Linked DNA regions of Homo sapiens. The protein of the gene in region 3 purifies or fractionates together with the protein of the main gene of each other region. This does not show direct contact. Each region holds a gene or a part of one and is shown on either strand. Other genes may lie near its edges. The genes, in order: CYB5B, OCIAD1, MTCH2 and NDUFB8.

Evidence for each region.
Region 1: the proteins of MTCH2 (region 3) and CYB5B purify together in Homo sapiens (affinity purification with mass spectrometry; 2 studies listed by BioGRID and IntAct, with this or other methods). This does not show direct contact.
Region 2: the proteins of MTCH2 (region 3) and OCIAD1 purify together in Homo sapiens (affinity purification with mass spectrometry; 3 studies listed by BioGRID and IntAct, with this or other methods). This does not show direct contact.
Region 4: the proteins of MTCH2 (region 3) and NDUFB8 fractionate together in Homo sapiens (co-fractionation; 2 studies listed by BioGRID). This does not show direct contact.

Annotation. Positions count from the first base shown.
Region 1 is NC_000016.10:69,427,598-69,434,622, reverse strand, and holds part of CYB5B (cytochrome b5 type B), read right to left. Parts: intron 1-7,025. UniProt on the Homo sapiens protein: Cytochrome b5 is a membrane-bound hemoprotein functioning as an electron carrier for several membrane-bound oxygenases.
Region 2 is NC_000004.12:48,855,076-48,862,100, forward strand, and holds the end of OCIAD1 (OCIA domain-containing protein 1), read left to right. Parts: intron 1-2,137; coding exon 2,138-2,290; intron 2,291-5,081; exon of another isoform or gene 5,082-5,128; intron 5,129-5,649; coding exon 5,650-5,687; 3' UTR 5,688-6,740; downstream 6,741-7,025. UniProt on the Homo sapiens protein: Maintains stem cell potency. Increases STAT3 phosphorylation and controls ERK phosphorylation. May act as a scaffold, increasing STAT3 recruitment onto endosomes. Involved in integrin-mediated cancer cell adhesion and colony formation in ovarian cancer.
Region 3 is NC_000011.10:47,618,539-47,625,563, reverse strand, and holds part of MTCH2 (mitochondrial carrier homolog 2), read left to right. Parts: intron 1-2,787; coding exon 2,788-2,863; intron 2,864-6,644; coding exon 6,645-6,731; coding exon of another isoform or gene 6,732-6,764; 3' UTR 6,765-7,025. UniProt on the Homo sapiens protein: Protein insertase that mediates insertion of transmembrane proteins into the mitochondrial outer membrane. Catalyzes insertion of proteins with alpha-helical transmembrane regions, such as signal-anchored, tail-anchored and multi-pass membrane proteins.
Region 4 is NC_000010.11:100,526,865-100,534,615, reverse strand, and holds the start of NDUFB8 (NADH dehydrogenase [ubiquinone] 1 beta subcomplex subunit 8, mitochondrial isoform 1 precursor), read left to right. Parts: upstream 1-4,744; 5' UTR 4,745-4,764; coding exon 4,765-4,849; intron 4,850-5,109; coding exon 5,110-5,236; intron 5,237-7,541; coding exon 7,542-7,641; intron 7,642-7,751. UniProt on the Homo sapiens protein: Accessory subunit of the mitochondrial membrane respiratory chain NADH dehydrogenase (Complex I), that is believed not to be involved in catalysis. Complex I functions in the transfer of electrons from NADH to the respiratory chain.

The DNA.
Region 1 (7,025 bases), on a different chromosome or scaffold from region 3:
AAGGGCTGGGATTACAGGCGTGAGCCACAGCACCTGGCCAACCACACACCCATTAGAATGGTTAAAAGTAAAATAACTGACAAATACAATGTATCAATGAAGATGTGAAGAAACTGGAAAACCTACATTGTGGTGGGAGTATAAAATTATATAAACACTTTGGAAAATGCTCTGGCAGTTGCTTAAAAAGTTAAACAGACATATAACCTAGTAATCTCACTCCTAGCAATTTTACTACTAGGTATTTGCCCAGGAGGAATAAAATCATATGTCCACACAAAGATTTGTACATGACAGTTCCTAGCAGTTTTATTCATAACAGCCCCAAACTGGAGACAACCCAAATGTCAATCAACAAGTGAATGGATAAACAAATTTTGGTATGTTCACACAATGAAATCATAAGTTACAAATCACTGATAACACAGAAAAAATAGATGAATCTCACAGATATACTGAGCAAAAGAAGCTAGACAGAAGAGTACGTACTATAGTGTTAGAAATAAAATGAGTGTGTATGGGGACAACACTGGTAGAAATGTTCTACAGTTATGTGCCACATAATATGGTCAACAATGGACCATATATATGATGGTGGTCCCATAAGATTATAATACCATATTTTTATTGCACCTTTTCTATGTTTAGATGCACAAATACTTGTTACTGTGTCACAACTGCCTACAGGTTTGTACAGGTTTATAGCCTAGGAACAAGAGACTATACCGTACAGCTAAGGTGTGTAGCAGGCTATACTACCTAGGTTTGTGTAAATATACTCTATGATGTTTGTGAAGGGGTAAAATCAACTAATGATGCAGTTCTCAGAATGCACCCTCATTGTGAAGTGACCCATGACCGTATATTGATTGTGATGGTGATTATACAGATGAGACATTTGTCAAAACTCACTGAACTCTACATTCAAAATCTGTACATTTTATTGTCCCTACATTTGATTTCAATTAAGTTGATTTAGAGAAAAAAATGTGACAGCAAAATATTGAAAAACCCAAATGTTTATCAATAGGATACTGCTTAAATAATGATCCATATAATAAATCCTATGCAGCTGTGGTGAAGGAGGAGGAGGGATGCCAGTTATTGCTATGGAAAGATCCCTGAGATACACAGTTAAGTGAAAAAGGCAAGACACAGATGAGTGTGCATAGTATGTTATCTTTTGTGTAAAAAAAGAGAAACTACATTCACTTTGGCTTGTACAGGCAAAAAGAAACTAGAGGGATACACAAACAATGGGAGTTAACTTTAGGAGGCAGTGAAACTGGGCAGAGGGGAAGGTGGCTTTTTACTATATACCTGTTTGACCTACTTAAAAAATGAAAAAAATTACCTAGGTTCCAGGAAAGGGGTATCTGTTCTAACTTCCCTATACCACATTCCCAATCCTTCCAAATTATATTTAAAATGTGAACAAAGCTATAAAACAGACCTAATTCCATACTCTGCAGCCATGAAAAACATTGAGGCAGATCCTAGGGTACGGTTAAGAGTACAGGCCACAGGCCGGGCATGGTGGCTCAGGCCTGTAATCCCAGCACTTTGGGAGGCTGAGGCAGGCGGATCACCTGAGGTCAGTAGTTTGAGACCAGCCCGGCCAACACGGCAAAACCCCGTCTCTATTAAAACTACAAAAATTAGCCAGATGTGGTGGCAGGTGCCTGTAATCCCAGCTACTCAGGAGGCTGAGGCAGGGAGAATCGCTTGAACCCGGGAGGTGGAAGTTGCAGTGGGCTGAGATCGCGCCATTGCACTCCAGCCTGGGTGATAGAACGAGACTCTGTCTCAAAAAAAAAAGGAGTACAGGCTATAGGGTCACAGTGCTTGATTTCAAATCTCACCTGTGCCACCTAACTTTATGACTCTGTGAAAGTTACTCCTCTGCTCCTGTTTTCTCACCTCTAAAACAGGTTGTTGGGAGGCTTAAAAGAGAAATTACATGTAAAGCACTTAGAATAATAAGCACTCAATAAATACTATGACGACTACGAGGGCAAATCAACTAATAGAATACTATGACTCTATTTCTGTATATATTTGTACATATTTGTATATATAAGTATATACATGTTTGCACATATAAGTATATGCACGGAAGATGTAGTATTCAAACAAATTATTGGGATTGAAAGAGTTTAGCCTACCCTAACTTAAATGTGTTCAGAACATTTACGTTAGCCTACAGTTGGGCAAAATCATCTAACATGAAGCCTATCTTACAATAAAGTGCTGACTATTTCATGTAATTTATTGAATACCATACTGAAAGTGAAAAACAGAATGCTTGTATGAGTACTCACATATCACTTTCACACCATGGTAAAGTCAAAAAATTTTAAGTCAAGCCCTAGTAAGTCAGGGACTGTCTGTAAATTGCTTCAATGTCATCCCTCATCTTCAAACATGTCAGTGGTTTTCTATTACCTTTTGGATCAAATCCAAACTACCTACCAGACCTTGCATGTCCTGGGTCCCGCCTAGCTCTCTGGCCATTCTTGTCCTTCATTCACTATAGACACAGCTTCTTTCAGTCCCACTAATGTGCCAAACTCTTGCTTGACTTCAAATGCTGCTGGAATGCTCTTTTCTGTATTCTTTCCAAATCAGGTTCATGACCATCAGCTCAATTAAATGTTATCTTCTCACAGAGGCTTTCCCAGATCACTCTTATTAAATTAAATCTTTCCTGATTTTTCTTTCTCAACTCATTTGTTTTCTTCATAAAAGTGCCATAATTTAAAATTATTTCATCTGTCTGTTTTTGTTTTGACTCCTCTAGAATGGTAGCTTCAAGAAGGCAGTATCATGGGATATTTTCGTTTTGTTTGTTTGGAGACAGGGTCTCGCTGTCACCCAGGCTGGAGTGCAGTAGTGCTATCTCGGCTCACTGCAGCCTCGATGTCCTGGCCTCAAGCCCTTCTCCCACCCCTGCCTCCTGAGGAGCTGGGACTACAGGCTCATGCCACCATGCTCGTCTAATTTTCGTATTTTTTGTAGAGATGGGGTTTTGCCATGTTGCCTAGGCTGGTCTCAAACTCCTGAGCTCAAGTGATCTGTCCACCTTGGCTTCCCAAAGTGCTGGGATTACAGGCGTGAGCCACTGCACCCAGCTTTGTTTTGTTTTTAAGACAGAATCTCACTCTGTCGCCCAGGCTGGGGTTCCATGTTTATGTTTATTTTTATACACCACCAGGGCCTACTACTATATAGAACTTAACAAATATTTGTTGGGTTAATAAAATGTTATCCCATTTATGAGATGGTTCCTAAAGTAATATTCTCATTTATGGTGACAGTTTCTAAAAACACATATAGGCCGGTGCCGTGGCTCACACCTGTAATCCCAGCACTTTGGGAGGCCAAGGTGGGCAGATCACTTGAGGTCAGGAGTTCGAGACCAGCCTACCTAACATGGTGAAACCCCATCTCATAAAAACTAGCCAGGTGTGGTGGGAGGGACCTGTAGTGCCAGCTACTCCAGAGGCTGAGGCAGGAAAATCGCTTGAACCCAGGAGGCAGAGGTTGCAGTGAGCCAAGGTAATGCTACTGCACTCCAGCCTGGGCGACAAAACAAGACTCCATCTCAAAATAAATAAATAAATAAATACACATATAAAGCTTTAAAATAGGGCTGGGCATGGTGGCTCACACCTGTAATCCCAGCACTTTGGGAGGCCGAGGCGGGTGAATCACCGGAGGTCAGGAGTTCAAGCCCAGCCTGGCCAACATGGCAAAACCCCATCTCTACTAAAATAGAAAAATTAGCCGGGCATGGTGGCATTCACCTGTAATCCCAGCTACTCAGGAGGCTGAAGCAGGAGAATCACTTGAACCTGGGAGGCAGAGGTTGCAGTGAGCTGAGACCATGCCATTGCACTGCAGCCTGGGCGACAAGAGTGAAACTCTGTCTCAAAAAAAAAAAAAAAAAGTTTTAAAATATCACAATGTTATTTCAAGTTACTCTTTTGACAAATGACTATTTATACACAAGTCAATGGCTTCCAAATTTTCACTTGTAATACCCAGTAAGGAAATAATTTTACACTGCAATCCAATAAACACCATATACATGAGATATTATAGGCCAGGCACAGTGGCTCATGCCTGTAATCCCAACATTTTGGGAGGCCAAGGCGGAAGGATCACTTGAGCCCGGAGTTTGAGGCCAGCCTGGGCAACATGATGAAACCCCATCTCTACAAAAAAAATACCAAAAAAATTAGCAGGGTGTGGTAGTACATACCTGTAGTCCCAGCTACCTGGGAGGCTGAGGCGGAGGATTGTTTGAGCCCAGGAGGCAGAGGCTGCAGTGAGCCAAGATGGCACCACTGCACTCAAGCCTGGACAACAGAGCCAGACTGTCTCCAAAAAAAAGAAAAAAAAATACATTATATATAACTGAACAAAGTTTCACAAAATTTTACCCTTGATAAGAGAGATGCACTTTGATATTTTCTATCAATGTCATAAGATATTACAATCATTTTTATGTGATTTTTCTAAACTACTAAATGGTGGAAAGATAATGACATGTACTACTTTCATTCATGATTTCAACAACTCATGAATGCACTGATTCAAACAATGCAAAATTAATCTGCCAGGGAAAGACAATTCAATTATATTACTAATTCTAAACTACCACATTCAAACTCCAGTATCATACTCTAACCAGTCATTAATCAAAAAAATGGTAAGCTACAGACACAGGACACTTAAGATTAGGAACCTCTTGCTAAAGGAGGGGCCCCAAAGTGACATCAGATTGGAAAGAGAAGGATGAATACCAATGTAAATCTTCCCTCTCTCATCTAATAGCAACCCAACTCTTGAAGACTCATAAGCCAAAAACTTTGGTGTTATCCTTGACTCATTTTTCTTTCATTCCCCAAATCTGGCGCATCATTAAATCCTATTGGCTCTTCCATCACAACACATCCAAAATCTGACACTTGTTCTGGTACAACCCACTATCTCTTGCCTAATTACTAAAACAGCCTCCTAACTGGTCTCCTCAATTCTGCCCTTGTCCTCTTAAGAAGGCAAAGCCAGCTGGACTTCCTGGGTGGAGTGGGGACTTGGCAAACTTTTGTGTCTAGCTAGAGGATTGTAAATGCACCAATCAGTATGCTGTAAAAATGCACCAATCAGCACTCTGTGTCTAGCTAAAGGATTGTAAATGCACCAATCAGCACTCTGTAAAAATGGACCAATCGGCACTCTGTAAAATGGACCAATCAGCAGGATGTGGGCGGGGACAAATAAGGGAATAAAAGCTGGCCACCCCAGCCAGCAGCATCAACCTGCTCTGGTCCCTTTCCACACTGTGGAAACTTTGTTCTTTCACTCTTCACAATAAATCTTGCTGCTACTCACTCTTTGGGTCTGTGCCACCTTTAAGAGCTATAACACTCACCGCGAAGGTCTATGGCTTCATTCTTCAAGTCAGAGAGACCAAAAACCCACCGGAAGGAACCAACTCCAGACACACTCTTCCTTCAGTCTTTCACAACAATGTAGTCAGAACGATCCTATTACGCCATTAAGTCACATCATGTCACTCTTCTGCTCCAATGATTTCCCATCTCAGAATAAAAGCCAAAGTCCTTCCTAAAACCTGTGAAGTTGTACATGATTTGTCCTCCCCTGATCATTCTGATCTCATGTGCAACTATTCAACCACTGTGGCCTCCCTGACTGTTCCTCAAACATACCAGACATCCTCCCATCTCAAGGCCTTTGAACTTGTTTCCTCTGCCAGGAATGCTCTATGCTCTTCCTACAGATACCCTCATGGCTAGCTCCTTTACTTTGCTCCTGGCCTTTACTTAGTCATCTTCATAAAGTTATCTCGGCACCATCGCTAAAATTTCAAACCCTCCTCCTCACACCACATAAATATTCCACAGTCCTCTTCCCTGTATTATTTTTCTTTTTTTTTTCATTTGTGACGGAGTCTCACTCTATCACCAGACTGGAGTTCAGTGCCACAATCTTGGATCGCTGCAACCTCCAACTTCTGGGTTCAAGTGATTCTCCTGCCTCAGCCTCCCAAGTAGATGAGAGTACAGGCACATGCCACCATGCCCAGCTAATTTTTGTATTTTTAGTAGAGATGGGGTTTCACCATGTTGGCCAGGATGGTCTCAATCCCGACCTCATGATCCATCCGCCTCGGCCTCCCAAAGTGCTGGGATTACAGGCCTAAGCCACCGTGTCCAGCCCCCTGTATTATTTTTCTTCTTAGCACTTACCACTACCTAATGTAGTATATATTTTAGTTATTTACTCTGCTTATCGTCTGCCTCCTGTGCCATGTAATCTCCATGAGGGCATAGCTGTTTATTCACTACTAAATCCCCAGCACCTAGAACAGTGTCTAGAACATAGTAAAGGCTTAATAAATATTTGAATAAGTGAATGAATGAATAGGCTTGGAATGAACAAGAAAACAGAATAAATAAGAATAGCTAATTAGGCTGAGCACAGTGGCTCACACCTGTAATCTCAGCACTTTGGGAGGCCCAGGCAGGAGGATCCCTTGAGCCCAGGAGTTCCAGACCACACTGGGCAATAGTGGGACCCCAATTCTTTTTTTTTTTTTTTTTGAGACAGAGTCTGACTGTCGCCCAGGCTGGAGTGCAACGGCACCATCTTGGCTCACTGCAACCTCCACCTCCCGGGTTCAAGCGATTCTCCTGCCTCAGCCTCCTGAGTAGCTGGGATTACGGGTGTGTGCCACCACGCCCAGCTAATTTTTTTGTATTTTTAGTAGAGACGAGGTTTCACCATTTTGGTCAGGCTGGTCTGGAACTCCTTACCTCATGATCTGCCCACCTTCGCCTCGCAAAGTGCTGGGATTACAGGTATGAGCCCACACCCAGCCAGTGGGACCCCAATTCTACAAAAAATTTTAAAAATTAGCCAGGCGTCGTGGTGCACACCTTTTCCCAGCTATTCGGGAGGTTGAAATAGAAGGATCACTTGACCCCAGGAGACTGAGG
Region 2 (7,025 bases), on a different chromosome or scaffold from region 3:
CAGAATTTTATAATGGTAAAATATTTTTTATAAGAAAAAGTATTAGACCTGGAAGGAACTTCAGAGATCATCTGCTCAAACTACCATATTTCGCAATTGAGAAAACCAGGATTCAAAGAAGCTTAGTGATTTGCCCAAGGACATTTCCTAATTGTCAGCAGAGTGGGGTTAAGAACCCAAGGTTCCTGAAGTACACACGATTTCCTTCAGAATTTTTAATATAACATATATGGTGAAGGGAAATGAGTTCAGTAATTACTTATTACTAATGAAATGCAAAGTGTTTTAATCCCAATATAAGGTTATAATATTTTTCTTTACATTCTTTTTTTAGTAAGAAAAATGTAGTTTTGAACCATCATATAATACTAGAACTAATTAGGAGAAATTTAAATCCTCTTTGCTTTATATAAGTATAGTATATATTTATTTAGCAGAATAAATGTTTATGGTTGAAAATGGCTGGGTGCAGTGGCTCATGCCTGTAATCCCAGCACTTTGGGAGGCCGAGGCGGGTGGATCACCTGAGGTCAGAGTTCAAGACCAGCCTGACCAATATGGCGAAACCCTGTCTCTACTAAAAATGCAAAATTAGCTGGGCATAGTGGCACATGCCTATAATCCCAGCTACTTGGGAGGCTCAGGCAGGACAATCACTGGAACCTGGCAGGGGGAGGTTTCAGTGAGTCGAGATTGTGCCCCTGTGCTCCAGCCTGGGTAACAGAGTGAGACTCTGTCTCAAAAAAAAAAAAAAAAGTTTATGGTTGAAAACATTATTTAATGTATAGTTATGTTGCTTAGAAAATTCTGATTATTCACTGGGATCCTACCTTTGAGTTCTAAATAAGTATCACAAAAATTATTTTTTAAAAAGTTAATATTAAAAGTATATGCCCAATTTGTATGTCTTATTGAAAACATCTTTGAAAAACAGTACTTTTGGTGTGGTATGTGGTAGGTAAGACTTTGTAAGTTAAGTAGTTGTTCACTGAATGTTAGCATCTTTTTTTTTTAATGTTCATATGGCCTTTTTTGCTGTTTATAAATTGTATAAACTATGTTCACTATTTGATCCTGTCAACCAATATTAGGAGTAACCACTGCATTATATTTACATTTGACTCTATGATAATATGTAATATTCACATTTTGACTCTCTTTGGGAGAAATAAAGAATAAATGTTAGTTCCCAGGCCAAAATAACAGTTGATACTTTCTTCTGCATCAACATTGCATCTGTTAGACTGGAATGAAAACAACACATATTCTGATTAAAGGCTATGTTTTATACTTTTCAAGTAATTATTTTCAACTTTTTTTCCTTTTTTTTTGAGACAGAGTTTTGCTCTTGTTGCCCAGGCTGGAGTGCAATGGCGCGATCTCAGCTCACTGCAACCTCCGCCTCCTGGGTTCAAGCGATTCTGCCTCAGCCTCCTTAGTAGTTAGGATTACAGGTGTGTGCCACCACGCCCAACTAATTTTGTGTTTTTAGTAGAGATGAGGTTTCTTGTTGGCCAGGCTGGTCTTGAACTCCTGACCTCAGGTGATCCGCCCGCCTCGGCCTTCCAAAGTGCTGGGATTATAGTTGTGAGCCATTGTGCCTGGCCTATTTTCAGTATTTTTGTTTAAATTTTGTAAAAAGGTAAAATAAATGATTTTTGAAAATAGCTGGAGTTGTTTTCATAGAGTCTGTGGTTATAGGACTATTTAACTATATATTGAGTAAAATCTATGCTATGTCAAGTTTTATTCAGTTGTCCCTAGTAGAATATATTTCTCTTTTAATTCTGTATACAGTATGAGTAACTCCAGTTTAAAACACTGGTATTTTAATGAGTTTAAATTGTACTGTTATATATTATGATACATATTTTTCTTCTGGCTGTGGTTTAGTTTTTAAAATTTTTGATGTCCATTTTAATTTTTAGAAATAAAAGCTTAAAAATATGGGTGGAAGTAGATTTCAGTTTGATGATTATCTTGGTGAAAGTATAGTACCTGTGAAATGGTGGTAATAATTTGATTCTTTATTCTATTTTGATTGTAGCTCCTTTTGTAAGGAGCATTTGTAAAATTTAGTTGCTTTAGAGTTATACAAATCCTTTTATTACCATTTATTAACTGTTTGTTGTTTTAGGACCTGATCCCAACCTTGAAGAAAGTCCTAAAAGAAAAAATATTACATATGAGGAATTAAGGAATAAGAACAGAGAGTCATATGAAGTATCTTTAACACAAAAGACTGACCCCTCAGTCAGGCCTATGCATGAAAGAGTGCCAAAAAAAGAAGGTATGATAGTTTAGTCTGAATCACTTTACTGTTGAGGATTGGAAACTAAAACATTACTTTAAAACAATACTATAAAAAATTAATTAATATGTGATTTAACTCTTCAAGCAATTAACCAAAGTAAAATATTTTTAAAATAGTACTTTACAGTTATCAGTTCTTTTTTTTTTTTTGAGACGGAGTCTTGCTCCGTCGCCAGGCTGGAGTGCAGTGGCACGATCTTGGCTCACTGCAGCCTCTGCCTCCTGGATTCAAGCAATCCTCCTGCCTCAGCCTCCCAAATAGCTAGGACTACAGGCCCCCACGCCCAGCTAATTTTTTGTATTTTTAGTAGAGATGGGGTTTCATCATGTTGGCCAGGATGGTCTCGATCTTTTGACCTTGTGATCCGCCTGCCTCAGTCTCTGAGAGTGCTAGGATTACAGGCTTGAGCCACCGTGTCCGGCCAGTTTTCCATTTTTAAGGTGTTCCAAAGGCCATTTTGTGTTAGAAAATAATGAAGTCAAGGCCAGGTGTGGTGTCTCATGCCTGAAATCCCAGCACTTTGGGAGACCAAGCTGGGTGTATCACTTGAGGCCAGGAATTGGAGACCAGCATGGCCAACATGGCGATACCTTGTCTCTACTAAAAATACAAAAATCAGCTGGGCATGGTGGTGCATGCCTGTAATCCTAGCTACTCGGGAGGCTGAGGCAGGAGAACTGCATGAACCCAGGAGGCAGAGGTTGCAGTGAACCGACATCACGCCACTGCACTGCAGCCTGGATGACGGAGCGAGGCTCTGTTCCCCCCTCCCCCCGCCAAAAAAAGGAAGAAAATAGTGAAGTCCAAATAGTAAGTCTTAAGACAGCAAGATTAGTTTAACACAGGGTAGAGACATACTCATTTGACTGTTTCTCTCTTACAACAAATCTCCTTGGAGATCTGATAGTCTTATTTTCCTAATGATACATCTATCGCATAAGTTGCTGTAGTGACCTGAGGTTGGCGTTGCGCTGTAATACCACTTGTGGCCTAACCACAGAATGATTGAGTAATGAGATTGATTTTCTTGTACATTTGGGTTTTTCTCGTGTTTTTTTGTTCTGTTTGTTTGTTTTTTCTTTTTGAGATGGTTTTATTCTGTCACCCAGGCTGGAGTGCAGTGGTGTAATCATGGCTTACTGCAGTCTTGACCTCCTGGGTTCAAGCAGTCCTCCTACCTCAGCTTCCTGAGTAGCTGGGACTACAGTTGTATGCCACCATCCCTGGCTGTTAAAAATTTTTTTTGGTGCAGTGGGTTTTTCCCTATGTTGCCAAGGCTGGTCTCAAACTCCTGGGCTCAACCAGTCCTTTCACCTTGGCCTCCCAGAATGCTGGGATTATAGGTGGGAGCCACTGTGCCTGACCTTTCTTGTACATTTGTGAATTTGAAAGAGTTATATGCCAGCTTCTAAGGCATTTCTTAAAGATGAATTTTTAAATCCTGGTTTCTTTTAAGTCTTTTTGGAATAGCTATACATTAGCCAAAGTAAATTTTTTGATACAAGTTTACCTCTAAAGGAAGAGGACATTCGAATAGGGTTTTATAGCTATTTCAGTATAGGGTTTTATGATTTTCTCTTAAGGAATTTCAGAGTATGTGTCATTGTTTCAAGATTTTCTATTTACTACTTTAAAAATGGAAATAATAGGTCTTTGGTACCTTCTTGAAGGTCATATGCCACAAAGAATGCAAAAATACATGAAAGTCCTTAGTATTTGTTGTTATGGTCATTTTTTAGAGCTAATTTTATTTTTAATCATTAGCGGTTGCTTCGTTTGGAGTTCTGTTTTTATAACAATGATAGATAATATCTGCATCATATTATTGATGTAAAAAAAATCTACCTTTGAAATGAATTAGGGATGTACCATACTTTTGAATGTTTGTCATCAAACAACATTTAGCATAAACTGCATCTAGTGGCCATTGCTCTGTAATATGTAAAGACTTGTCGGTACTTTGTCCTGCTAATTAATTTGAGGATTTAGATTGTAAGCTCTGTGAGGGCAGAAAGTAATATTTTTCTCATTTTTGTAATCTTTTCTATTATTGTCTGCATAGCATAGTACTTTACACTGTATCAGAAATTGAGTATTTTGGTTTAGGCTTCTATGGTAATAGAGGTTAAGAAAGGAAATTTGGTAGACCTTTAACATTTGCTGGATTTTGACATTTTTGATTTTTGACTGAAGTCTTCAAGTTCTGTTACATGACACAAGAATGTGAAATGATTTTTTCTTTTTTTGGGAAAAGCTGGTTTTTTGTGTGCTTTATATAATTTAAAGAAAAGACTTGTTATGAAATAGTTTCAGTCATTTTCTGAATTATTGTTGAAATTAGTACAGGGTAGATTCACATGGTCAGAAAGTGTCACTTAAAGTTTTCACCTTTAGCTTATGTGGTTGATATTTATCTAATTAGAAATTAAGACCCAGAAATTTAAAAAATTCAAGCACATATTCCATTAGCTGCCAGAGCAATGTCACCACACATCCTGTAGCTTCTAGAAAACCATGTAACATATACTCATGAGGGAATGAGAGCAAGGGGAAAAGGCAAAATGTGAAACATAAGGATATATAATGTCTTAGTATAATAATGAAATAATTTTGACTTCATGTATTCCCTGAAGAGTCCACACTGTGATAACTGCTGCTTTATATTGTTATGATTACTCACAGACAGAAGCTATGTGGAAGAGAAGCAAAAAAGTAAAGGAGTAGAATAGACAGCGGAGCATGTTTTAAAATGTAAAATATAGAGTACCTGTAAAATGTAGTAGTATTTTCTTCTTATAGTAGTATTTACAGCCCTGAGAGAGAAGATTGAATTAATTACAACTTGAACACTTGACCATTTCTACTGCTGTATTTTTTGTGAAAAACGAAAATTCAAATGTTTGTTTTATTATTTCCCACTATTTTTTTTTTTTTTTGTATATGGCTTAATATGTGCCACACTTAGGTAGTATGGTAAAGATGTAAAGGTACCTAGGCTTTGGATCTAAACAGACCTATACTCAAATCTCAGTTCTTGTTAGGGCTTGTACCTTGGGCAAGTTACTAATCTTTTTTCTCACCATTAAAATGAGAATTGTGTTTAGAAGTTTGTTATGAGGACTAACTATTTATGTAAAATTCTAGATACAATGCATTTGTCCAACCCCAAGTTCACAAAAGTCTGGTCATCCCCTTTTTGTAATTATAATTTGACTCTCATGTGCTTTTATTCAAATGAGAGAGAAACATAACTTTTCATCATAGCAACAAACTTAAAATAATGTCTTTTACTTATTATTGCTTGGAATCATCAATTATTTATGCTTTTTTCCTAGTCAAAGTAAACAAGTATGGAGATACTTGGGATGAGTGAAAAATTACATCATTGGACATGAAGGAGTTTCAACATCCAGCTTCATCTAGGTGGTCATGATTACCTGCATGCTTTGAGCTCAGCAGCAGTCTTCATAAACACATTTAAAACAAGATCCTGGGTTTTTGTGGTTTGACTTCTATGGTGTTTTAAAAAAACACAGATTTTTAGTGTTAATATTGTGTAAATGTACTCACCTTAGGGATTCATTTGAATGATGGTATTATACCATGATTGTATACAGTTTGTGAAATTGTTGCAAGGGCAAAGATAACTCTTAAAAAACCGTCGAGATTACAATGCTCTAGAATCAGCATATAAGAAAATAAATGATATCTGCATGTTGAATTGGGGTGGATGGGGGGAGCAAGCATAATTTTTAAGTGTGAAGCTTTGCATCAAGAAATTATTAAAAAGCTTTTTTTCTCCAGTATTTTCTGTATTATCTTAATGTTTATGGCAAATAAAATGTAAAGGAACATGCAACAGCCCTCATCTTCCTTGATTTTATGGTTTTATTGTTTGTAATTTATTGATTTATTTTTAAGCTAGTTATAATCATGTAGGTATAGGAAATAAAGTCATCTATAATATTTCTATAATATGGCTATAATATGGCTATAAATCTATAATATGGCTGGAGGCAGTGGGCAGTGGTTCATGCCTGTAATCCCAGCACTTTGGGAGGCCGAAGTGGGAGGATTGCATGAGTCCAGGAGTTTGAGACCAGCCTGGGCAACAAAGCGAGACCCTGTCTTTACAAAAAAATAAAAATTAGCTGGCGATGGTGTCGTGTGCCTGTAGTCCTAGTTACTTAAGAGGCTGAGTTGGGAGGATCAGTTGAACCCAGTGGTTCTGGGTTGCAGTGAGCTGTGGTCACACCACTGAACTCCAGCCTGTGCGACTGAGTGAGACCCTGTGTCTAAAAAAATAAAAATATAATGAATGTGATTTATGTAGATAAATTGATAATATAGTAAATAGGTAAATGCCTTAAAAAGCATTTTTAAAGAATTTGTAAATTCTAAAACAATAAAAATTTGGTATACATCACAGAGACTGATATTATGTTAAAAAGAAAAATTGGTGTACAGTGACCCTTCGTATCTGTGGGTTCCGTATCTGCAGATTCAATCAACTGCAGATTGAAAATATTTGAGGGAGAGAAATGGATGGTTGTCTGTACTGAACTCTTGTTATTCCCAAACAATACATTGTAATAACTATTTACATAGCATTTACATTAGGCATTACAAGTAATCTATAAATGACTTAAAGTATATAGGAGGATGTGCATTGGTTATATGTAAATACTACACCATTTTATAGTGGACGTTA
Region 3 (7,025 bases):
GTATTTTTTTAAAAAGGGGGGGAGGAAAAGTATAATTGATACCATTAGAAGATTCCTAATTTTTTTCTTTGTATGCCCTATGCAGCAGCAGCCTCAATTTGTATTTATTTATTAATTATTATTATTATTTTTTTTTTTTTTGAGATGGAGTCTTGCTATGTTGCCCAGGCTGGAGTGCAGTAGCATGATCTCGGCTCACTGCGACCTCCACCTCCTGGATTCAAGTGATTGTCCCGCCTCAGCCTCCTGAGTAGCTGGGATTACAGGCATTCGCCACCATGCCCAGCTAATATTTTTGTATTTTTGGTAGAGACAGGGTTTCACCATGTTGGCCAGGCTGGTCTCGAACTCCTGACCTCAAGTGATCCACCCGCCTCAGTCTCCCAAAGTGCTGGGATTACAGGCATGAACCACCATGCCAGGCCAATTACTATTATTATTTATAGTTTTTGTTTTTGTTTTTGTTTTTGTTTTTTGAGACAGAATCTCACTCTGTCACCCAGGCTGGAGTGCAGTGGTGCAGTCTCGCTCCATTGCAACAGACACCTCCTGGATTCAAGCAGTTCTCATGCCTCAGCTTCCCAAGAAGTTGTGATTACAGGCATGTGCCACCATGCTGGGCTAATTTTTGCATTTTTAGTAGAGATGGGGTCTTGCTATGTTGGCCAGACTGGTCCTGAACTCCTGACCTCCGGTGATCTGCCTACCTCGGACTTCCAAAGCGCTGGAATTAAAGGCGTGAGCCACTGCACCTGGCCTATTTTTATTTATTTTTAATTTTTTTAGAGATAGGGCTGCAATGTGGTGGTGAAGTCCTAGCTCACTGCAGCCTTGAACTCCTGAGCTCAAGGGATCCTCCCATCTCAGCTTCCCAAGTAGTTGGGAGTACATGTGCATGCCACCATGCCTGGCTAATTATTTTTTGTGAAGACACAGGGTCTCACTTTGTTGCCCAGGCTGTTCTTAAATTTCTAGGCTCAAGTGATTCTCCTTCCTCAGCCTCTTAAAGTGCTGGGATTACAGGGGTGAGCCACCATGCCCAGCCAACATATTGTTATTTTAAATCTTTATCTTTTCTATGAAAGTGACAAAAGGTATATCAGGGATTAAATGACAATCCATACCTGTTTTTCCTAGGGGCTTTATGGAGAAAGTGAGTTTTAAAGAACCAGAATTAGGATATTTAGTCTATGGAAAGTTTGATGACCTTTTCTCTGTATTGGTTAGAAGGGCAGGTTTTGGTATAGTGGTAGACTCCATTGATTTCCAAATTCTAGATGCCAAGTGACTCTACTGAGTTGGGCAAAATTTTGCCTTTTTTTTTTTTTTTTTGAGATGGAGTCTCACTCTGTTGCCCAGGCTATAGTGCAGTGGTGCAATCTCGACTCACTGCAACCTCCACCTCCCAGGTTCAAGCAATTCTCCTGCCTCAGCCTCCTGAGTAGCTGGGATTACAGGTGCCCACCAGCATGCCTGGCTAATTTTTTGTATTTTTTTGTTGTTGTTATTGTTGAGACAGAGTCTTGCTCTGTTGCTCAGGCTGGATTGTGGTGGCGCGATCTTGGTTCACTGCATCCTCCACCTCCTGGGTTCAAGTACTTCTCCTGCCTCAGCCTCCAGAGTAGCTGGGATTATAGGCACTTGCCACCACCCCCGGCTAATTTCTGTATTTCTAGTAGAGACAGTGTTTCACCATGTTGGCCAGGCTGGTCTCGAACTCCTGACCTCAAGTGGTCCACCCTCCTCGACCTCCTAAAGTGCTGGGATTACAGGCGTGAGCCACTGCACCCAGCCTTGCCTTTTTTGTTTAATTCAAAATTCTTTTCCCATATGGTACCTGACATATCATTAAACATGTTACTGTTTTCAAATAAGATCAGATAGCTATGTGGAGTTTTGAACATTTTACATTGTTTGTTTTCTGGTTTTGTTTGTTTCATGTTACTCCTGGCAAGCTGTGATGTTTTCTGATACGTAGAGCAACTGCCATTTTTTAGCACAGTGTAAACTTGAAGGATGAATTAAATGTATTATTATTATTTACAGTTTTTTCAAGATGAAGTGATTATACCTAAGTAGGAACATATATATCTACTGTTTATATCCGTTTTCATGTTTAGTATCTTTGTGAACACCAGTTAGTTTTTAAATCTCCTTTCCCTGCTCTTTTTTTTTTTTTTTTTTTTTAAAAAAAGACTGGTTCTTACTCTGTCACCCAGGCTGGAGTGCAGTAGTGCAATCTTGGCTCACTGCAACTTCCGCCTCCTGGGTTGAAGCAATTCACATGCCTTAGCCTCCCAAGTAGCCGGGATTACAGGCATGCGCCACCATGCCAGCTCATGTTTTTGTATTTTCAGTAGAGATGGGGTTTCACCATGTTGGCCAGGCTGGTCTTGAACTCCTGACCTCAAATGATCCACCTGCCTTGGCCTCCCAAAGTGCTGGAATTACAGGTGTGAGCCACCGTGCCCGGCCACCTTTCCCTGCTCTTTAATCATGTAAATGCTGTGTTCTGGAGTTTCATTTGTCCACAAAGGAAAAGTCTAAATGTTTTAGAAATTAAGGTTGAAGTTTATGTTTATTTATTTATTTGAAACCTAAATATAGGGGAGGAATTCTCTTTTGGATGCTTGATCGTTCCCCTGCTTCAATATGATTTGTTTCATTGAACTAAAATGATCTCTCAGGGAATCTTCTGTGCAGCAGAATATTTTGACAAGGTTTATCAACGTCTCAAGAGAATGGTTAATATTAACATGAATAGCTCCATGTTTTTTTCTATTTTAGTCTTGCTGGTGGATGCCCTCCTTACTCCCCAATATATACGTCTTGGATAGACTGTTGGTGCATGCTACAAAAAGAGGTATTTCTTTTTCTCTGTCTCTCTCATTTTATTTTGTTTTATTTTTATTTATTTGTTTTCTTAAATATTGTCTCTGGAATCCCAAGTTAACTCTTGTAGCTCACTTTAGCTAGAGTTAGTCTAGTCTGCCAGTTAATGTACACTTTACAGTGTTCTGTGTTTTCACTTTGGCATAATAGTAAAATGTGATGTTTAGAAATCATGAGCAGGAGTAATGAAGAAGAAAGAATCCCTAGATGAGACCTAGAAGCCATTTGAGTGCCCACATTCAACTTACAAATACGATCCAGGTAGATTATTATCCTGGTAAAATGATGGCCTTGATTTTAGACTCTTTTTTTCCCCCAAACTCACCTTTCATAACCACTTATTTGTCACAGTGGTATTGACAGAGCTGGTCTTATACTTCTAGAGTCTTGTTAGTGGATGATTTTGCCTAGATACCAATTTAGGGTTTGTTATTACTATGAGGTGTATAATCTGCAACAAAAAATTATTTATTATCTAGGCAAAGCTTTATTGGAAAATAAAATAATGGGCTGGGTGCAGTGGCTCACGCTTATAATTCTAGCACTTCGAGAGGTCTAGGTGGGCAAATTGCTTGAGCCTAGGAGTTTGAGACCAGTTGAGGCAACATGATGAGACCTCATTGCTACAGAAAATACAAAAACTTAGCCAGGCATAGCACCTATAGTCCCAGCTACCCAGGAGGCTAAGGTGGGAGGATCACCTGAGCCCAGGAGGTCAAGGCTGCAGTGAGCCAAGATTGCATCACCGCACTTCAGCCTGGGTGACAGAGTGAGACCCTGTATCCAAAAAAGGAAAATAAAATAACGGCTAGGTATGGTGGCTCATGCCTATAGTTCCAGTTACTCAGGAGGCTGAGCCAGGAGGATCACATGAGTCCAGGAGTTTGAGGCCAGCCTGGGCAACACAGCCAGACGTGTCTCTTAACAAAAAACTACAGGCCAGGTGCAGTGGCTCACAGGTGTAATCCCAGCACTTTGGGAGGCCAAGGCGGGCAGATCACTTGAGGTCAGGAGTTTGAGACCAGCCTGGGCAACGCAGTGAAACCCCATCTCTACTAAAATACAAAAGAAATTAGCTGGGCGTAGCAGCGTGTGCCTGTAGTCCCAGCTACTGGGGAGGCTGAGGGAAGAGAATTGCTTTAACCCAGGAGGTGGAGGTTGCAGTGAGCCAAGATTGTGCCACTGCACTCCAGCCTGGGTGACAGAGCAAGACTCCATCTCAAAAAAAAAAAAAAGACAATAACAACAACAAATGGATTGGCTGTGGGCTAAATTTAGCACAGGATCACTTAAAATGATTATCAGTTTAAAGCTGTTTTTGAAGGGGGGTCCACTTCTTAAAAGATTGTAGAAGAAAGCGTATAAAGAAGCTCTTTGTTGCATTATTTTATAGCACTAGTGATATATAAGAGAAAGGCCTTTGAAATCTGAATGAAAAGGCCTAAGTGTTGTTTGTAGTTGCTCTTGCTTAGTGTGCCCACAAAGCCCCTCTGTGAATCCAAGCTTGAATACTTGAATGATTTCAGTACAGACCTACTATGAACATTGTGCATTTCATTCTGAGTTTTACTCTCTATTGTACAGTGTGGTCCCTGTTTAAATGGAAAAAATGGCCTTTCCTTCCTTCCTTTTCTGACTAACACTCTGTTATAGGAAGAAAGCAGACAGAGAATGGATTACGGTGTCAAACACACTTAAAGTAGGAACAGTTGTTCCTGTAGGTGCTTACAACAACAGCAAATCTTGATTGGGCATTTACTGTATACCAGATATCATGCTAAGAGCTTTTCTTACATCAGCTCATGTAATCCTCAAAACAGCTGTGTGAGAATAGGTGTCATTCTTAATCACCCATTTCACATATGAAGAAACTGGGGCTTAGAGCAGTTTAGTGCCAATTACATAATGCAAGGTCACATGGCCTATATTTGGGAAGGCTCAGATTTATACTCCAGAGTGTACTCAGTTGCACTCAGAACATTATTACTTTATTTTTATTTACTTATTTGGTTCTTTATTTTTTAGAGACAAGCTCTGTCGCCCAGGCTGGTGTGCAGTGGTGGCATCACAACTCACTGTAGCCTCAAACTCCTGGGGTAAAGCAATCCTCCTACCTCAGCCTCCCAAGTAGCTAGGACTACAGGCATGCTTCCACCATGTCCTGTTAATTTTTTTGTTTTGTTTTGTTTTTGAGACAGGGTCTCACTCTGTCACCCAGGCTGGAGTGCAGTGGCATGGTATTGGCTCACTGCAACCTCTGCCTCCTGGCTGAGGTCTCTGGCTCAAGTGATCGTCCCACCTCAGCATCCCAGGTAGCTTGGACTACAGGCACATACCGCTAAGCCCAGCTCATTTTTTTGTTTTTTGTTTTTTGTTTTTTTTAATTTTATTATTATTATACTTTTAAGTTTTAGGGTACATGTGCACAACGTGCAGGTTTGTTACATATGTATACATGTGCCGTGTTGGTGTGCTGCACCCATTAACTCATCATTTAGCATTAGGTATATCTCCTAATGCTATCCCTCCCCCCTCACCCCTGTTTTTTGTTTTTTGTTTGTTTGTTTTTTTGTTTTGTTTTGTTTTGTTTTGTTTGAGACGGAGGCTTGCTCTGTCATCCAGGCTAGAGTGCAATAGCACGATCTTGGCTCACTGCAACCTTCACCTCCCAGGTTCAAGCAATTCCCCTGCCTCAGCCTCCTGAGTAGCTGGGATTACAGGTGTCCGCCACTACGCCCGGCTAATTTTTGTATTTTTAGTAGAGATGGGGTTTCACTATGTTAGTCAGGCTGGTCTCGAACTCCTGACCTCAGGTGATCTGCCTGCCTCAGCCTCCCAAAGTGCTGAGATTACAGGCGTGAGCCACCATGTCTGCCCAATTTTTTGTATTTTTTGTAGCAACGGGGTTTTGCCATGTTGTGCAGGCTGGTCTCAAATTCCTGAGCTCAAGTGATCCTCCTGCCTTGGTCTCTCAAAGTGCTAGGATTACCGGTGTGAACCATCACACCCGGCCTTTAATTTTTTAATTTCTTGTAGAGATGGGGTCTTACTATGTTGTCCAGGTTGTTATTACTTTGATTATAAGATTTTATAAGTAGTCCTTAGAAACATGATTTCATTTCATTAAGAAATAAATAGGCCGGGTATGGTGGATCACACCCGTAATCCCTGCACTTTTGGGAGGCCAAGATAGGCGGATCACTTGAGGTCAGGAGTTTGAGACCAGCCTGGCCAATATGGTGAAACCCCACCTCCACTAAAAGTACAAAAATTAGCCAGGCACGGTGGCGCGTTCCTTTCCCAGCTACTTAGGAGGCTGAGGCAGGAGAATCGCTTGAACCTGGGAGGCAGAGGTTGCAGTGAGCCGAGATTGCACCACTGCACTACAGCCTGGGCAACAGAGCGAGACTCCATCTCAAAAAAGAAAAACAAAGAAATAAATGAAAGCTAGCACTTACTGAATGTTAGGCACTGTTCTACATGACTCATTTGCTAAGCCAGCTGGAAAGTGGCAAAGCCAGAATCCAACCTGGGCGTTCTGTCTGCCCAGAGTAAGAACTTAATAAGGAGAAATTGTAGTTAGTTCATAGTAGCTCAGCCTTTCAGAGAATACTAATCCTTGTTCTGTAGTGATAGTCCCAGTTTTGTCCTAGATTTAGTCACGTCTCCCAATTGGACCTCTCTGCTGATTTGGATTGGCTGATCTCATCTCGCTAGATATTATTTGTGTTTTGTTTTGTTTTGTTTTCCAGGGGAATATGAGCCGAGGAAATAGCTTATTTTTCCGGAAGGTCCCCTTTGGGAAGACTTATTGTTGTGACCTGAAAATGTTAATTTGAAGATGTGGGGCAGGGACAGTGACATTTCTGTAGTCCCAGATGCACAGAATTATGGGAGAGAATGTTGATTTCTATACAGTGTGGCGCGCTTTTTTAATAATCATTTAATCTTGGGAAAATTCAGGTGTTTGGTGTCTGCCTTTTTTGTTCTTTTTTCCAGCACAACATAACTTACCACTGATACTCCCCCTTTAGTTATTCTGAATTAGGATATTTTTGCTCCAAATTCTTATTTTACTTAACCAGAAGGGAAAAAAAGTTGTATTTTCCTGAAGCTACAGGCACTTTGTCATG
Region 4 (7,751 bases), on a different chromosome or scaffold from region 3:
TAACTATGTAATTATGCTACATAGTAACCATGCTACACCAAACCGATAATAGGGCTACCTCTGTGGAAGTGTTTGAGGCTGCAGGGGGCAATCAAGGCTTTCATTTTATCTGCAGTGTTTGAATTTTTTTTTTTTTTTTGAGCTAGGGTCTCACTCTGTCACCCAGGCTGGAGTGCAGTGATGCAATCTTGGTTCACTGCAACCTCCACCTCCCCAGCTCAAGCAATCCTCCTACCATAGCCTCCCAAGTAGCTGGGACTAAAGGCACACACCACCATGCCGGACTAATTTTTTTTCCTTCTGTAGAGAAAGGGTTTTGCCATGTTGCTCAGGCTGAATGTTTGAATTTTTACAAGAATGTATTAATTCATAACCTTGGGAATTAAAAATAAATTAGGCCAGGCATGGTGGCACATGCCTGTAATCCCAGGACTTTTCAAGGCTGAGGCAGGAGGATTACTTGAGCCTGGGTGTTCCAGATCAGCCTGGGCAACATAGCAAGACCTCATCTCTACAAAAAATTTTAAAAATTAGCTCGGTGCGTTGATGCATGCCTGTAGTCCCAGCTACTAGGGAGGCTGAGGTAGGAGGATTGTTTGAGCCTGGGAGGTGCAGGCTGCAATGAGCCATGATCATGCCACTGCACTCCAGCCTGGATGACAGAGCAAGATCCTGTCTTACTAAAAATAAATAAATTAATTAAGATCAAGAAGATTAAAAGAACTAAAATCAGTAATGAAACAGGGATATTACTGCTGACTTTACCCCCCAAAAAAAGCATATAAGGACATACTGTAAACAATTGTATGTCAAAAAATTACAGAACCTAGATGAAATGGACAGATTCCTAGAAAGGCACAAGCTATAATAGCTGATTCAAGAAGAAATGGAAAATCTGAATAGACCTGTAACAAGAGATTGAATTAGGAATCAAAAACATCCCATAAAGAAAAGCCCAGAAACTGGGCATGGTGGCTTACATCTGTAATCCCTACACTTTGGGAGGCAGAGGCAAGCGAATCACTTGAGCCCAGAAGGTCGCGACCAGACTGGGCAACATGGAGAAACCCCATCTCTACCAAATCCCCCCAGCCAAAAAAAAAAAAAAAAAAAAATTAGCAGGCATGGTGGCACGCCTGTAGTTCCAGCTATTCGGGAAGCTGAAGTGGGAGGATCACTTGAGCCCGGAATGTGGAGGTTGCAGTCAACTGAGATTGCACCACTGCACTCCAGCCTTTTGAGACAGAGCTAGGCCTTGTCTCAAAAGAAAAGAAAAGGCTGGGCACAGTGGCTCATGCCTGTAATCTCAGAACTTTGGGAGGCCGAGGTCGGGGGGACCACCTGAGGTCAGGAGTTCGAGACTAGCCTGGCCAACATGGTAAAACCCCCATCGCTATCAAAAATACAAAAATTAGCCAGGCATGGTGGTGCACGCCTGTAGTCCCAGCTACTTGGGAGGCTGAGGCAGGAGAATCGCTTGAATCCCGGAGGCGGAGGTTGCAGTGAGCTGAGATCGTGCCACTGACTCCAGCCTGGGCAACAGAGCAAGATTCCATCTCAGGAAAAAAAAAAAAGAAAAAGAAAAAGAAAAGCTCAAGACCAGATAGATTTACTGATGAATCCTACCAAACATTTTTTAAAAAATTAACACTGGTCTGGGTGCAGTGGCTCATGTCTGGAATCCCAGCACTTTGGGAGGCCACGGCGGGTGAATCACGAGGTCAGGAGACCGAGACCATCCTGGCTAAAACGGTAAAACCCTGTCGCTACTAAAAATACAAAAAAATTAGCCGGGCATGGTGGCGGGTACCTGTAGTCCCAGCTACTCAGGAGGCTGAGGCAGGAGAATGGCGTGAACCTGGGAGGCGGAGCTTGCAGTGAGCCGAGATTGCACCACTGCACTCCAACCTGGGCAACAGAGCGATACTCCGTCTCAAAAAAAAAAAAAAAGAAAGAAAGAAAACTATAGACCAATATTTCTTATGAATATAGATGCAAAAATCCTAACAGAATACTAGCAAACTCAGTGTAACACCATATAAAAGAATTATATACTATGACCAAGTGGGATTTATTCCAGGAATGCAAGGTCAGTTCAACATCTCAGAATGATCAATATAACACACCATGTAGTAATCAATATTTTATTGATTAATATTTATAATCAACATAATACACTATATTAGTAAAAGAAAAAACCCTACATGATCATCTCAATAGACACAGAAAAAGCTTTTGACAAACCCCAACACCCCTTCCTGATAAACACAGGGTTCCAAATGATACTGTAAAAAAGCAAAAAAACCTACAGAGTCAGAGAAAATATTTATGAATTGTGTATCTGATCAGGGAATTGTATCTAGAATACATAAAGAATCCTTACAACTCAACAATAAAAAGACAAACCAATTTAAAAATGAACAAAGGGTTTGAACAGATATTCCTCCAAAGAAGGTATACCATGGCCAATAAGCACATGGAAAGATGCTCAGCATTATTAGTCATCAGGGTACTGCAAATGAAAACTGCAATGAAGTACCATTCACAGGCACTTGCATGGTGATACTAAAAAGAGACAATAACAAGTGTTGATAAAGATGTGGAGAAACTGAAACCCTCTCACACACTGCTAATGGGGATGTAACATGTCACAGCTGCTTTGAAAAACAATTTGGCAGTTCTTCAAAAGTTAAACCACAGAGTTACCCTATGACCCAGCAATTCTACTCCTAGGCATATAACCAAAAGAATAGAAAGCATACATCCAGACAAAAACTTATACAAGAATGTTCACAGCAGCATTATTCACAATAGCCAAACAAGCAGAAACAACTCAAATGTCCATTAACTGATAAATGTATAAATAAAATATTGTACTGTACATTCATATAATGGAATATTATACAGCCCAAAAAGGAATGAAGTACTGATATGTGCTACAACACAGACAAACTTTGAAAACATTATTCTAAGTGAAAGAAAATGGACACAAAAGGCCACATATTGCATGATCCATTTATATAAACTGTCTGAATAGGCAAATCCATAGAAACAGAAAGTAAATTAGTGGTTGCCAGTGGGTAGAGGTAGGGGCAACGTGCTAATGTGTATGGGTTTTTTCGGAAGCAATAAAAATGTTTTAGATAGTGATGATGATTGCACAACTTTGTAAATGTACTAAAAATAACTACTGTACACTTTAAAAGGTTTTTTTGTTTTTGTTTTTGTTTGTTTGTTTTTTGTTTTTGAGACAGTCTCACCCTGTCACCCAGGCTGGAGTGCAGTGGCGTGATCTCGGCTCATTGCAACCTCCATCTCCTGTGTTCAAGTGATTCTCTTGCCTCAGCCTCCTGAGTAGCTGGGATTACAAGTGTACACCACCATGCCCAGCTATTTTTGTATTTTTAGTAGAGATGGGTTTTTGCTGTGTTGGCCAGGCTGGTCTTGAACTCCTAACCTCAAGTAATCTTCCCACCTCAGCCTCCCAAAGTGCTGGGATTACAGGCGTGAGCCACCGCACCCGGCCTAAAAGGGTGAATTTATGGTATGTGAATAATATCTTAATAAAAATAAATAAATTAGATCAACTCTGTTTCTTGACCTAAATTGGATCAGGGTTTGCTATTGGTTGAATGCAGATGTTGTGCAATTATTCTGAACATCAACTAGTGATGTCATTTACAAGACAGCAAGTTGCTGTGTAGTCCTTCCCAAAATTTATATATTAAATAGTATATATCCATATTTGTTTACTTTTTATAACTTAAAAAAAAAGAGACGAAGTCTCACTATGTCACCCAGGCTGGTCTCAAACTCCTGGTCTCCAGCCATTCTCCAACCTAGGCCTCCCAAAGTGTTGGGATTACAGGTGTGAGCCACAGCTCCCAGCTTATATGCATTTTTATTGCTCTGATATATACTTGAGAATGTTTATAATAATAGGTTCTGCTCCAAAACAGTGGTCACCTGAAAAGTCACTGGAAATACGTGCATATTTATAATGTGTAAGTTATTCAAATCCCAAGTGAAAACATTCATATGCAAACATAATAATGTCTCCAATTCTTCTGTTGAGTTAGTTTGTTCATTATGGGCCGGTTTGTAATTTGTTTTATCCAAGTCCTACCAACTCTGAGGCTTTAAGCTGTCTCTGGAGAGCTGCCTCTGGTGATAAGTTTAATTTTACATTTGTTGGGTTGAGGTGACTGAGACATGCAGATGGAAACACGGACTGAAACTAAGGAGCCAATTCAGGGCCGAATTGTGTGTTGCACTGGCGTCTAAGTGAAGATCAACCCATTTGGAGAACAGAACAACAAGCAAGACCAACAGGTGAATTTGAAGAATGATCATGTTTGGGGATGGAAGGAAGTGCCCGTGAAGGAGAGGAAAGCAAGCAGCCAGAGAAGAGAGTAAGACAGGCTCATTTCACTAGTACAGCTCCTGGGGGAGGTGGTTAAGCTGTCTACCTGAGTTGCTCAGGTTCCGAGTTCCCATCATCCCTGGATGGGTCTAAGTCAGCTCAGGGAGAAAAAGGACACAACATTCTGAAATGTCAGAGACCTGCCTGGTTTTCCCTTCTTCCCGCTTATCCTTCCCAGCCTCTATCCAACCCTTGGCTTCCCAACTGCGTATTTAAACCCCGCCCCTGTTGAACCCTTCGGCTTTTCTTCACTCCCGGCTTCCTCCGTCACGTTTGGCCCGGCTCAGCCGCCGTGACAGGCCTTTGCGCATGTGCAGAAGGGAAACGTGAAGAAGGTGAAGATGGCGGTGGCCAGGGCCGGGGTCTTGGGAGTCCAGTGGCTGCAAAGGGCATCCCGGAACGTGATGCCGCTGGGCGCACGGACAGGTCCGCGAGAACGGGCGAGACCTCAGTGTGGGAAGGGGGTACCTGAAATTTGGTGTATCGGGAGGGGGGATCGTAGATGCCGCGGCGGCAGCCTCCGGGTAGGGAGTGGAGGTGGCGTTGATATATCCAGAAAATGGGGTGGAGGATCGCACTGATCCTGCGAAGTCCCGGGCTCGGACCTCTGCAGCCCCTGCGACTTGAAGCCTTCGGAGCGGCTGGAGAGCGGGCTCGCTTCTGACCTGTTCTCTTCTGCGTTCTAGCCTCCCACATGACCAAGGACATGTTCCCGGGGCCCTATCCTAGGACCCCAGAAGAACGGGCCGCCGCCGCCAAGAAGTATAATATGCGTGTGGAAGACTACGAACCTTACCCGGATGATGGCATGGGGTGAGACAGAGAGGGTATGCTCGCACCCAAGTAGTGATGGGAGAAGGCCGGCTGGGTTGGGTGGCTTGACTGTGACCCTTTTTCCCGAACCTTCTCGTGACCCCTCAGAGTCAATGGAGTGGGTGCTTTTCTCTGTGGAGGGAGGTGGGAGGGGGGTGGGTGAGCAGCTGCAGCTGAGAGGACTTCAATTTTCTCCTTGGCTCAGGCTGTTTCCTCAAATGAGGAAGCCGAGGTTTTAATGGCTCCCTCGAGGACCCCCGAATAGCAGGAGCCTTCCTTGGCTCTATCCAGAGCGTCGAGTTTCATTTAGATTGAGCATCTGCTGCGCTCAGGTGCTGTCATCCAGGCATGTGACCAGGCTGGAGCTGGACTCCTGTCATGAGAATCTTATTTGTAAACGGAGTACTCTATATTTGTGTGTATGTCTCTTTAAAAAAAATGTTTTTCTGTTAGTGCTGTGGAAATCGTAGCAACTATTAAGCAGATTAAACAGCCAGCCCCCTTACGTACTCCAGTTGATGTTATCCTATCCCTTCCACACTCTTCCGTATCCATACCCACATAACATCCCAATGGTTAATTATCTGAAGTGATTATCATCGCCTTTATTTCCTGTCCTAATGTCACTCTTTCAATCTTGGTTTCAGCAACTTCTATTCTTCTTGTTATACACTCATTTTCTGTAGCATATGTCTAGTTGTCATCATTTCCTGTTTTTTCTTATGTTGTGGACAAGAGCAGCCTTGTTCGAAGCCAGTGTCAGATGAACCTGGATTTGTTGGGGAAAACCCAGCTTAGCAAGAGGTCCCATGAGGTGTTTGAGACGCAGAGATGAATGCCAACTGGGTGGTCAAGAACACAGTTATTACGAGAAGAGTGCTTTTCTAATCTGTACCCTTTTTGTTTTTATTCCAATTAGCTGGGTGACTTTGGATTCAGACTCTAAACTTTAATTTTTCATTTTCTATCTAATGAGGGAATCAGAGTACAGTCATATGTCACTTAACAACAGGGATACATTCTGAGAAATGGGTTGTTAGGTTATCTCCTCATTGTATGAACATTAGGAGTGTACTTACAGAAACCTAGATGGTATGGCCTGCTACACACCTCGGCTTTATGGTATGGCCTGTTGCTCTGAGGCCACAAACCTGTACAGCATATTGCTATACTTAATACTGTGGGAAATTGTAACACAATGGTATTTGTGTATCTAAACATAGAAAAGGTACATAAAAGTATGCTATAAAAGATAAAAAATGGGCCAGGCACAGTGGCTCACGCCTGTAATCCCAGCACTTTGGGAGGCCAAGGCAGGCAGATCACGAGGTCAGGAGATCAAGACCAGCCTGGCTAACGTGGCGAAACCCTGTCTCTGCTAAAAATACAAAAATTAGCTGGGCGTGATGGCAGGTGCCTGTAATCCCAGCTACTTGGGAGGCTGAGGCGGGAGAATTGCTTGAACCCGGGAGGTGGAGGTTGCAGTAAGCTGAGATTGTGCCATTGCCCTCCAGTCTGGGCAACAAGAGCAAGATTCCGTCTCAAAAAAGAGAAAAAGATAAAAAATGGTACATATGTATAGGGCAGCTTTATTATAAACTTATGGGACCCCCTTCGTGTATGTTGTCCGTCATTGACTGAAATGGTATGTGGCACATGACTGTAATTGATTGCTAAATTCCCTTTCATCTCTAATATCACACGATTGTGTGACTTTTTTTCTTTTTATTGAAAGAAGTTTGGGGAAGCTGGGTTTTTTTGTTTTGTTTTGTTTTTTTCAGACAGTTTCACTCTTGTTGCCTAGGCTGGAGTGCAATGGTGCGATCTGGGCACACTGCAACCTCCACTTCTTGGGTTCAAGTGATTCTCCTGCCTCAGCCTCCTGAGTAGCTGATATTACAGGCACCTGCCACCACACCCAGCTAATTTTTGTATTTTTAGTAAAGGTGGGGTTTCACCATGTTGACCAGTCTGGTCTTGAATTCCTGACCTTAGGTGATCTGCCCACCTCAGCCTCTCAAAGTGCTGGGATTATAGGCATGAGCCACCACACCTGGCCCAGGGAAGGCTTATGTACATTAAAATATTTCAGAGTTTGCCATGAACTTTTAAATACAGTGTGGACTTCTATGGTTAATTCTGTGCTTAGTGACTAGAACTTGAGCTCTTGCCTTGAGGTTTAGTTCCTTTGTCCTTAGGTGAGGCAGTTATCTCTGTCACTTTGTTTCTCATCTATAAGATGAGGAGACTCTGAATTGTCTGAGGCTGCTCACAGCCCTTTCCAGAAGTTCTTGCTGTCTTTCAGGTATGGCGACTACCCGAAGCTCCCTGACCGCTCACAGCATGAGAGAGATCCATGGTATAGCTGGGACCAGCCGGGCCTGAGGTTGAACTGGGGTGAACCGGTAAGAGAACCATATCTCATTTGACCTTCCTTCTCTCTTTGTCTTCTTGGCGATTCTTTAGCTCAGATGGCACTTCTTTGACCAAGTAACACTAAGCTTTCCTGCTCAAG